Homo sapiens: one gene and its partner. The protein of the gene in region 1 interacts with the protein of each later gene in a biochemical or structural test. Each region holds a gene or a part of one and is shown on either strand. Other genes may lie near its edges.

Region 1 (3,900 bases):
CCATGAAGCGCTCAGAACAGGGGCTGGGGGACAGCAGCCGCCTTCCTCATTTCCCCACCTCCCTGATCGCATCAGCCACTCTCTTCCCCATGTCCCTGGAAGGGGCTGCAGAGGGGTAGGGGTGGAACCAGAGGCTGCCATCGCCCCCACCCGGTTTGGGTCGTGTCCCCCAGTGCAGCCTCTGCCATCGCCCTCAAGAGCATTTATCACGCATTTACCACGGATCTTTAAAACGAAAGCTGCAGGGGAGGGTAATTAAGTTTAATAGGAGCCGCCGTCGATTTAAAGCCACAGGGGGGAAGTAATTAGATTTAACAGAAGCCACGGCTTTCTGAACCAAGACACACAGCGTGGGGGTCCCTGGTCTAGAAAGCCTTCGGGATGATGTCTTTTTGTAAAGACTTTCCTGGTGACATTTGCTGCGCCCTCAGTCATTAACGCCAGTCACTGACTGGGGAATGAATGTGGCCTCTGCTCATTGAAATTCATTAGGCCTGGCATTTCTCTCGCTGTCTCTCCTGTTTGCCCTCCCCATCGCCTTTGCGCTGGGCCAGGAGGGCTCTGCCCCCAAAACCAGCCTCCTGGGGCCCCACATCCAGGAGCTGGGGGTTTGGAAGAATAACAAGAAATAATTAGAGTTAAACCAAAGCCCCGTAGGAGGACCCCTTTATTCCCCGCCTGGGTATTCTCTGGATGTCGTTTTCTTTATTGGCAGGAACCGCTTCATGGAGCGGCCCCCATTTCTTTCCTCACCTGGCACCTGCCCGGACGCCAGGGGCGCCCATCACCGTTCCTGGGCCCCTTCCCGACCCCTCCCCACCAGGTAAGGCGCTCTCGACCTCCCCGACCGTGCTGTTCCTCCTGACCCCGTGCGCAGGGACTCGGGGACTCAAAAACCAGACCCCCGACACAAGACAGCTCAAAAAACGGGAAACGGAGGCCCAGGCCTCCCTCCCTGCGCCCCTGCCTCCACCACCCTCCAGCCGAGAAGCTGGGGTTCACCAATCCCGCAGCTGGCCCGCCCACCCTGCCCGAGAGCCTCCTTCCCAGTGCCCCCTTTCAGGTTGCATCTCGCGCACAGCCGCGGGGCCGGGGCGAGCGCGGAGCAGGCAGGGGCGCGGGGCCAGGAGCGCAAAGCCCAGGCGGACGCCGAGGCTGCGGCGCCACCTACAGTCCGCGCGGCTTCCATTGTTTCCCCGCCGGCCGAGAGCGCGCCCGGCCCCCCGTCGGGGGGCAATTTACCCGGATAAAAGGGGCGGGGCAGGAATTGCAAGAAGATGAAGCTGAAAGAACCTGAGACTGTCGGAACTGCCGGGGAAAATTCTACGGGACGGCTTTGACGTCAGATGTGCGGGGCTGCGAAAGTCGGGGGAGGGAGTGCGAGTGGGCTTTTAAGGGGAAGGGCACTAAGGCCGAGGTGAGGCTTTTCCCGACAGAGGGTGAAGGGGGCAAAACTCGGTGCCCCCCAACCTCTGGCCCCGGGGTTCCTGACCCCGCCCCCGCTAGTGCCCCACGCCGAGTGCATCCACTGGGAGCCTGAGGCCTGGGGGAAGGGCCCCAGTTGTCGATTGCTTTACAAAGTCAAACTCTCCCAGCCAAGAACCTCGGGGCCGCTGCGCGGTGGGGAGGAGTTCCCCGAAACCCGGCCGCTAAGCGAGGCCTCCTCCTCCCGCAGATCCGAACGGCCTGGGCGGGGTCACCCCGGCTGGGACAAGAAGCCGCCGCCTGCCTGCCCGGGCCCGGGGAGGGGGCTGGGGCTGGGGCCGGAGGCGGGGTGTGAGTGGGTGTGTGCGGGGGGCGGAGGCTTGATGCAATCCCGATAAGAAATGCTCGGGTGTCTTGGGCACCTACCCGTGGGGCCCGTAAGGCGCTACTATATAAGGCTGCCGGCCCGGAGCCGCCGCGCCGTCAGAGCAGGAGCGCTGCGTCCAGGATCTAGGGCCACGACCATCCCAACCCGGCACTCACAGCCCCGCAGCGCATCCCGGTCGCCGCCCAGCCTCCCGCACCCCCATCGCCGGAGCTGCGCCGAGAGCCCCAGGGAGGTGCCATGCGGAGCGGGTGTGTGGTGGTCCACGTATGGATCCTGGCCGGCCTCTGGCTGGCCGTGGCCGGGCGCCCCCTCGCCTTCTCGGACGCGGGGCCCCACGTGCACTACGGCTGGGGCGACCCCATCCGCCTGCGGCACCTGTACACCTCCGGCCCCCACGGGCTCTCCAGCTGCTTCCTGCGCATCCGTGCCGACGGCGTCGTGGACTGCGCGCGGGGCCAGAGCGCGCACAGTGAGTGCCCGCCAGCACCCCCGCCCGCCCCGCCGCGCGCACCCCACCCCGCTGCGCGCGCCCCACCCCAGCGCCCTTCCTTCCTTTGCCACCCTTAGGCTCCTGCGGACCCCTCAACTCCTGGGAACCCCAGGTTTTGGCACCTGGACGTTAGGATCCCTCCGTTAGTCCCCAAACAGCGCGGGACGCTAGGGAGAAGCACAGGCTTGTGGACCGACCGCACCCACGTGGTGCGGGCCCAGCGGTCCTTGCTGCAGCTTCTCGCTTCCCCTGCGCCTAGGTTTGCTGGAGATCAAGGCAGTCGCTCTGCGGACCGTGGCCATCAAGGGCGTGCACAGCGTGCGGTACCTCTGCATGGGCGCCGACGGCAAGATGCAGGGGCTGGTAAGTGTCCCCACGGGGCGGATGCGCCGGGGCGGGGGACCGGCGCCTGTCCCCGGGCGGAGGCCTGAAGGAGAGAAAGGCGCTGGTTCGAATCCAGGGTTTCCTCGCCTCCTCCGCCCAGACCCGCGTGCAACTTCGAGGGAAAGATTGCAAAGACCGATTAAGTGCATGTCCGACGATTTCCTACGGAAATTTAGGGTCTCAGCCAGCAGCCAGAGAATAGGCAAAAGCTGCCTTTGCATTTCCAATTGAGTCAAAGGCCGGCCTAGCCGGACCGAGGAAACCCATTATTCGGCCTCCTTTGATATTAAACAGGAAAACCCACCTCGGGCCTTTTCAGCCTCTGCCTGCGCGTGTGTGGTCCTCGCCTCCGTTTCCCTCCCTCCAGTATAAAAGAAGAAAAAAAGAATGGGAAAGAAAAAAGAGGATCTACCCATAACTTTCCTTTAAAAACAAATCAATTGTCAAGCAAGGCAGAAAACAGTGCATTTGGGATAGGAGAGATTTTTTTTTTAGAATTAATTTTTAATCTACCAGGAGCACGGTGTGGCTTAGACGCAGATGCGCTGGAGTCATGTTGCGCCAGGGGAGTGCTTTTCCTCCTGCGGGCCTCACCTGTCCTGTAAACGCTTTCTGGTGGGGGCAGGGGGTGGGGGCTGGCAGGGAAGGCCCAGGTAACCGCAGAGGTCCCGGGGCCGGAAGTGTACGAGCGCTGGGGCTCTGGTGGCCGGGAACAAAGGCTGGGAGTTCAAAGGAACGAACCCGCGCCCCTCCCGCGGCCCCGCGCGCAGAGGAGGCTGTGTGAGGTCTCGGCCCGCGCAGGCCTCACACGCAGCCCCGGACTCCCTGGCGGAGCAGGGGCCAGGGCGGGGGTGGCCGCGCCTGCCCGGGGCCCCCACCCCAGAAAGGATGCAGAGGCGGGGCCGCCTCCGGCCCAACCAGCTCCTTTGTGAACAGCGGGACAAAGCATTTTAGAGTCTCAAAATTGCTCGGTGCCTCTGCCGTGCTCCGTGTACTCGGAGCGCCTGTTTCAGGTTTTATGGCGGAGTCCTGCGTGAGAGGACTGCAGAGAAAGGGGGTGGTCGGCACGCTGGACGCTGACTCCCACCCAGAGCCGCTCCAAACCCACCCTTGCAACTTTAATTTTGACATTTACTATGGCAGGGGGTGTGGGGGTTCCTAATGATGGGAGGCCAGCAGGGGACGTCAACCTAACCCGCCATTCTGCCCAAAT
Region 2 (3,900 bases), on another chromosome or scaffold:
CCAGGAGGGGGCTGCTGGGCTGAGCAAAGCTGGAAAGGATCCTTGCCCAGGCCCTGAGAAGGTGGCGGCAGGGCAGGGCTCAACCACTGAGACTCAGTCAGTGCCTGGCTTCCAGCAAGCATTCATCTATCACTGTGTCTGCGAGAGAGGACTGGCCTTGCAGGGCGCAGGGCCCTAAGCTGGGCTGCAGAGCTGGTGGTGAGCTCCTTACCTGGGTGTGTGTGCGTGTGTGTGTGTGTTCTGTGCACTGGGTGTGTGACCTAGGAGGTCCAGGCAGCATGTGTGGTATAAGCATTATGAGGGTGATATGCCCCGGTGCAGCATGACCCTGTATGTGGCACCAACAGCATGTGCCTTGTGTGTGTGTGTGTCCGTATGTGTGTGTGTGTATGCGTGTGTGTGTGTGTGTGTGTCTTGGCCACTGTCGTGTGCACTAAATGCTGTGTGTGTGACATGCCCCAAGAGTGTGGCATTTGCCCTGGGTGTGGCATCCGCAGCATGTGGCTGTGTGGGTGTCAAGGAGTGGTGGCTCCTTCAGCATGCGTTGCAAAGTGCTTGTGCCCTGCATGTGCGGTGTGTTCTTTGTACACAGGAGGCTGCCTCAGATGGGGCTGCGGGGTCTGCTGACCTCTGCCCTCTGCCCACAGAGCCCTGCCTGGCTCCCAGCCTGGAGCAGCAAGAGCAGGAGCTGACAGTAGCCCTTGGGCAGCCTGTGCGTCTGTGCTGTGGGCGGGCTGAGCGTGGTGGCCACTGGTACAAGGAGGGCAGTCGCCTGGCACCTGCTGGCCGTGTACGGGGCTGGAGGGGCCGCCTAGAGATTGCCAGCTTCCTACCTGAGGATGCTGGCCGCTACCTCTGCCTGGCACGAGGCTCCATGATCGTCCTGCAGAATCTCACCTTGATTACAGGTGGTAAGAGACTCTAGCAGGGAGTGAAGGGATGCCTGGGGAGACAGACCTGCCCCTCTTGGACCTTAGATGCTTCCCTCTGTCCCTGATGTAGACTCCTTGACCTCCAGCAACGATGATGAGGACCCCAAGTCCCATAGGGACCCCTCGAATAGGCACAGTTACCCCCAGCAAGGTCAGTAGGTCTCCAAGGACTTGTGTCCCCGCTGCTGCTCATCTGATCACTGAGAAGAGGAGGCCTGTGTGGGAACACACGGTCATTCTAGGGGCCTTCCCCTGCCCTCCAGCACCCTACTGGACACACCCCCAGCGCATGGAGAAGAAACTGCATGCAGTACCTGCGGGGAACACCGTCAAGTTCCGCTGTCCAGCTGCAGGCAACCCCACGCCCACCATCCGCTGGCTTAAGGATGGACAGGCCTTTCATGGGGAGAACCGCATTGGAGGCATTCGGGTGAGTCTCTGGGTTCCAAGACCGTCTGCTCCCCCATTTTCATTCCTTCATCAGTCCCCTCATACCTACAAGCATACCTATAAATCAATCGAATGAGTGAAGCGATTGCGGGGCCCCGGAAGGAGCCCTGGACTGTGGACCTGGGCAGCTCTGGTTCCCCTTCTGCTACTCTCTGGCAAGTGACTTAACCTCTCAGCCTCAGCAACTCCATTTGTAAAGGGAGAAGAATCACTGACTGGTTGGTCTGCATAAGCCTTAGCATCTCATCGTCTTGATGAGACCCTGCAGGGTCGGCTCCATGCTGTCATGAGGCAACTGAGTCTCAGAGAAGGCAAGGGTTGGCTCAAAGTAGCACAGCTAGGGAGAGGGAGAGCTAAAATTCCAAAGGCTCAAACCCAAGGCTCAAGCGCCCTGGGGAGCCTACTCCTTTGTGCCATAGTCCTTGGCCTGGGCCTGATGTTCTCAGGGCCTAGAGAGCTTGACAAGAGCCCTGTGGGCAGGATGAGGATCTAGCCTCCTGGTCCTCTGGCCCCCTTGGTGGACATGGTCCGGTGGTCCCGGACACTCTCTCTGCCTGCAGCTGCGCCATCAGCACTGGAGTCTCGTGATGGAGAGCGTGGTGCCCTCGGACCGCGGCACATACACCTGCCTGGTAGAGAACGCTGTGGGCAGCATCCGCTATAACTACCTGCTAGATGTGCTGGGTGAGCGCGGGGCTGGGAACAGGGGAGGCCTGACCCATTTTGGGCTCAGTTGTGCCCTCTTGGTGGGGTCTAGTCTGGCAGGCAGGATGGACTCAGATGAGTCAGGCAGCTTGGTGAGCAGGTGGGTCAGGGGAAAGCACAGGGGTTAGTGTGGGGCTGGAGGAGCAGAGGTCTGCCAAGAGGAAAAACAAGAAGGACATCCAGGCAGAGGGCGCAGCCCGAGCGGAGGGCCTGAGTATAACAAACGCCCTGCACTTGCAGGCCAGCATATTCGTAGGGCGTGGCGTTTATATGGGGAGCCAGGTGGTGGAGGGTTTTGAATGCTAGGCTGAGATGTTGTCCTTGACCCGAAGCAATAGGGAGCCAGGGAAGGTTTAAGCAGGGTAAGCAGGAGACAGACAAGAAGCTGCAGAAAGGTCCCTCCCTTGAACTTGAGGAAGGCTGGAGGGAGGCAAACAGGGTGCTTCTATGGGTGCCGGTGGTCAGGGTTGACTGTCTCGCCCGGTCCCCAGAGCGGTCCCCGCACCGGCCCATCCTGCAGGCCGGGCTCCCGGCCAACACCACAGCCGTGGTGGGCAGCGACGTGGAGCTGCTGTGCAAGGTGTACAGCGATGCCCAGCCCCACATCCAGTGGCTGAAGCACATCGTCATCAACGGCAGCAGCTTCGGAGCCGACGGTTTCCCCTATGTGCAAGTCCTAAAGGTAAAAGGTGCACCCTGCTGCAGCCTGGGCCCCATTCTTCTCCCACCTTGGGTTGGGGGGCTCCCCAGCTTCCCTGTTGGCCACAGTGTGGCCCCAGGCCCTGCTGTGACCCCAGAGCATGTCCCCCACCCCAGACTGCAGACATCAATAGCTCAGAGGTGGAGGTCCTGTACCTGCGGAACGTGTCAGCCGAGGACGCAGGCGAGTACACCTGCCTCGCAGGCAATTCCATCGGCCTCTCCTACCAGTCTGCCTGGCTCACGGTGCTGCCAGGTGAGCACCTGAAGGGCCAGGAGATGCTGCGAGATGCCCCTCTGGGCCAGCAGTGGGGGCTGTGGCCTGTTGGGTGGTCAGTCTCTGTTGGCCTGTGGGGTCTGGCCTGGGGGGCAGTGTGTGGATTTGTGGGTTTGAGCTGTATGACAGCCCCTCTGTGCCTCTCCACACGTGGCCGTCCATGTGACCGTCTGCTGAGGTGTGGGTGCCTGGGACTGGGCATAACTACAGCTTCCTCCGTGTGTGTCCCCACATATGTTGGGAGCTGGGAGGGACTGAGTTAGGGTGCACGGGGCGGCCAGTCTCACCACTGACCAGTTTGTCTGTCTGTGTGTGTCCATGTGCGAGGGCAGAGGAGGACCCCACATGGACCGCAGCAGCGCCCGAGGCCAGGTATACGGACATCATCCTGTACGCGTCGGGCTCCCTGGCCTTGGCTGTGCTCCTGCTGCTGGCCGGGCTGTATCGAGGGCAGGCGCTCCACGGCCGGCACCCCCGCCCGCCCGCCACTGTGCAGAAGCTCTCCCGCTTCCCTCTGGCCCGACAGGTACTGGGCGCATCCCCCACCTCACATGTGACAGCCTGACTCCAGCAGGCAGAACCAAGTCTCCCACTTTGCAGTTCTCCCTGGAGTCAGGCTCTTCCGGCAAGTCAAGCTCATCCCTGGTACGAGGCGTGCGTCTCTCCTCCAGCGGCCCCGCCTTGCTCGCCGGCCTCGTGAGTCTAGATCTACCTCTCGACCCACTATGGGAGTTCCCCCGGGACAGGTGCGCTGAGCTGTGTGGGGGCAGGGACGCGGGCGCCGGGTTGCAGCCCGCCCTCCGCAGGAGTGACTCGGAGGTCTGAGGCTGGACTTTC

What was found.
Region 2: the proteins of FGF19 (region 1) and FGFR4 form a complex in vitro, tested with the Homo sapiens proteins (2 studies listed by BioGRID and IntAct).

The regions. Positions count from the first base shown.
Region 1 is NC_000011.10:69,702,027-69,705,926, reverse strand, and holds the start of FGF19 (fibroblast growth factor 19 precursor), read left to right. Parts: upstream 1-1,904; 5' UTR 1,905-2,050; coding exon 2,051-2,282; intron 2,283-2,562; coding exon 2,563-2,666; intron 2,667-3,900. UniProt on the Homo sapiens protein: Involved in the suppression of bile acid biosynthesis through down-regulation of CYP7A1 expression, following positive regulation of the JNK and ERK1/2 cascades. Stimulates glucose uptake in adipocytes. Activity requires the presence of KLB and FGFR4.
Region 2 is NC_000005.10:177,089,743-177,093,642, forward strand, and holds part of FGFR4 (fibroblast growth factor receptor 4 isoform 1 precursor), read left to right. Parts: intron 1-647; coding exon 648-911; intron 912-1,002; coding exon 1,003-1,083; intron 1,084-1,195; coding exon 1,196-1,362; intron 1,363-1,942; coding exon 1,943-2,066; intron 2,067-2,578; coding exon 2,579-2,769; intron 2,770-2,903; coding exon 2,904-3,042; intron 3,043-3,395; coding exon 3,396-3,589; coding exon of another isoform or gene 3,590-3,663; coding exon 3,664-3,809; intron 3,810-3,900. UniProt on the Homo sapiens protein: Tyrosine-protein kinase that acts as a cell-surface receptor for fibroblast growth factors and plays a role in the regulation of cell proliferation, differentiation and migration, and in regulation of lipid metabolism, bile acid biosynthesis, glucose uptake, vitamin D metabolism and phosphate homeostasis.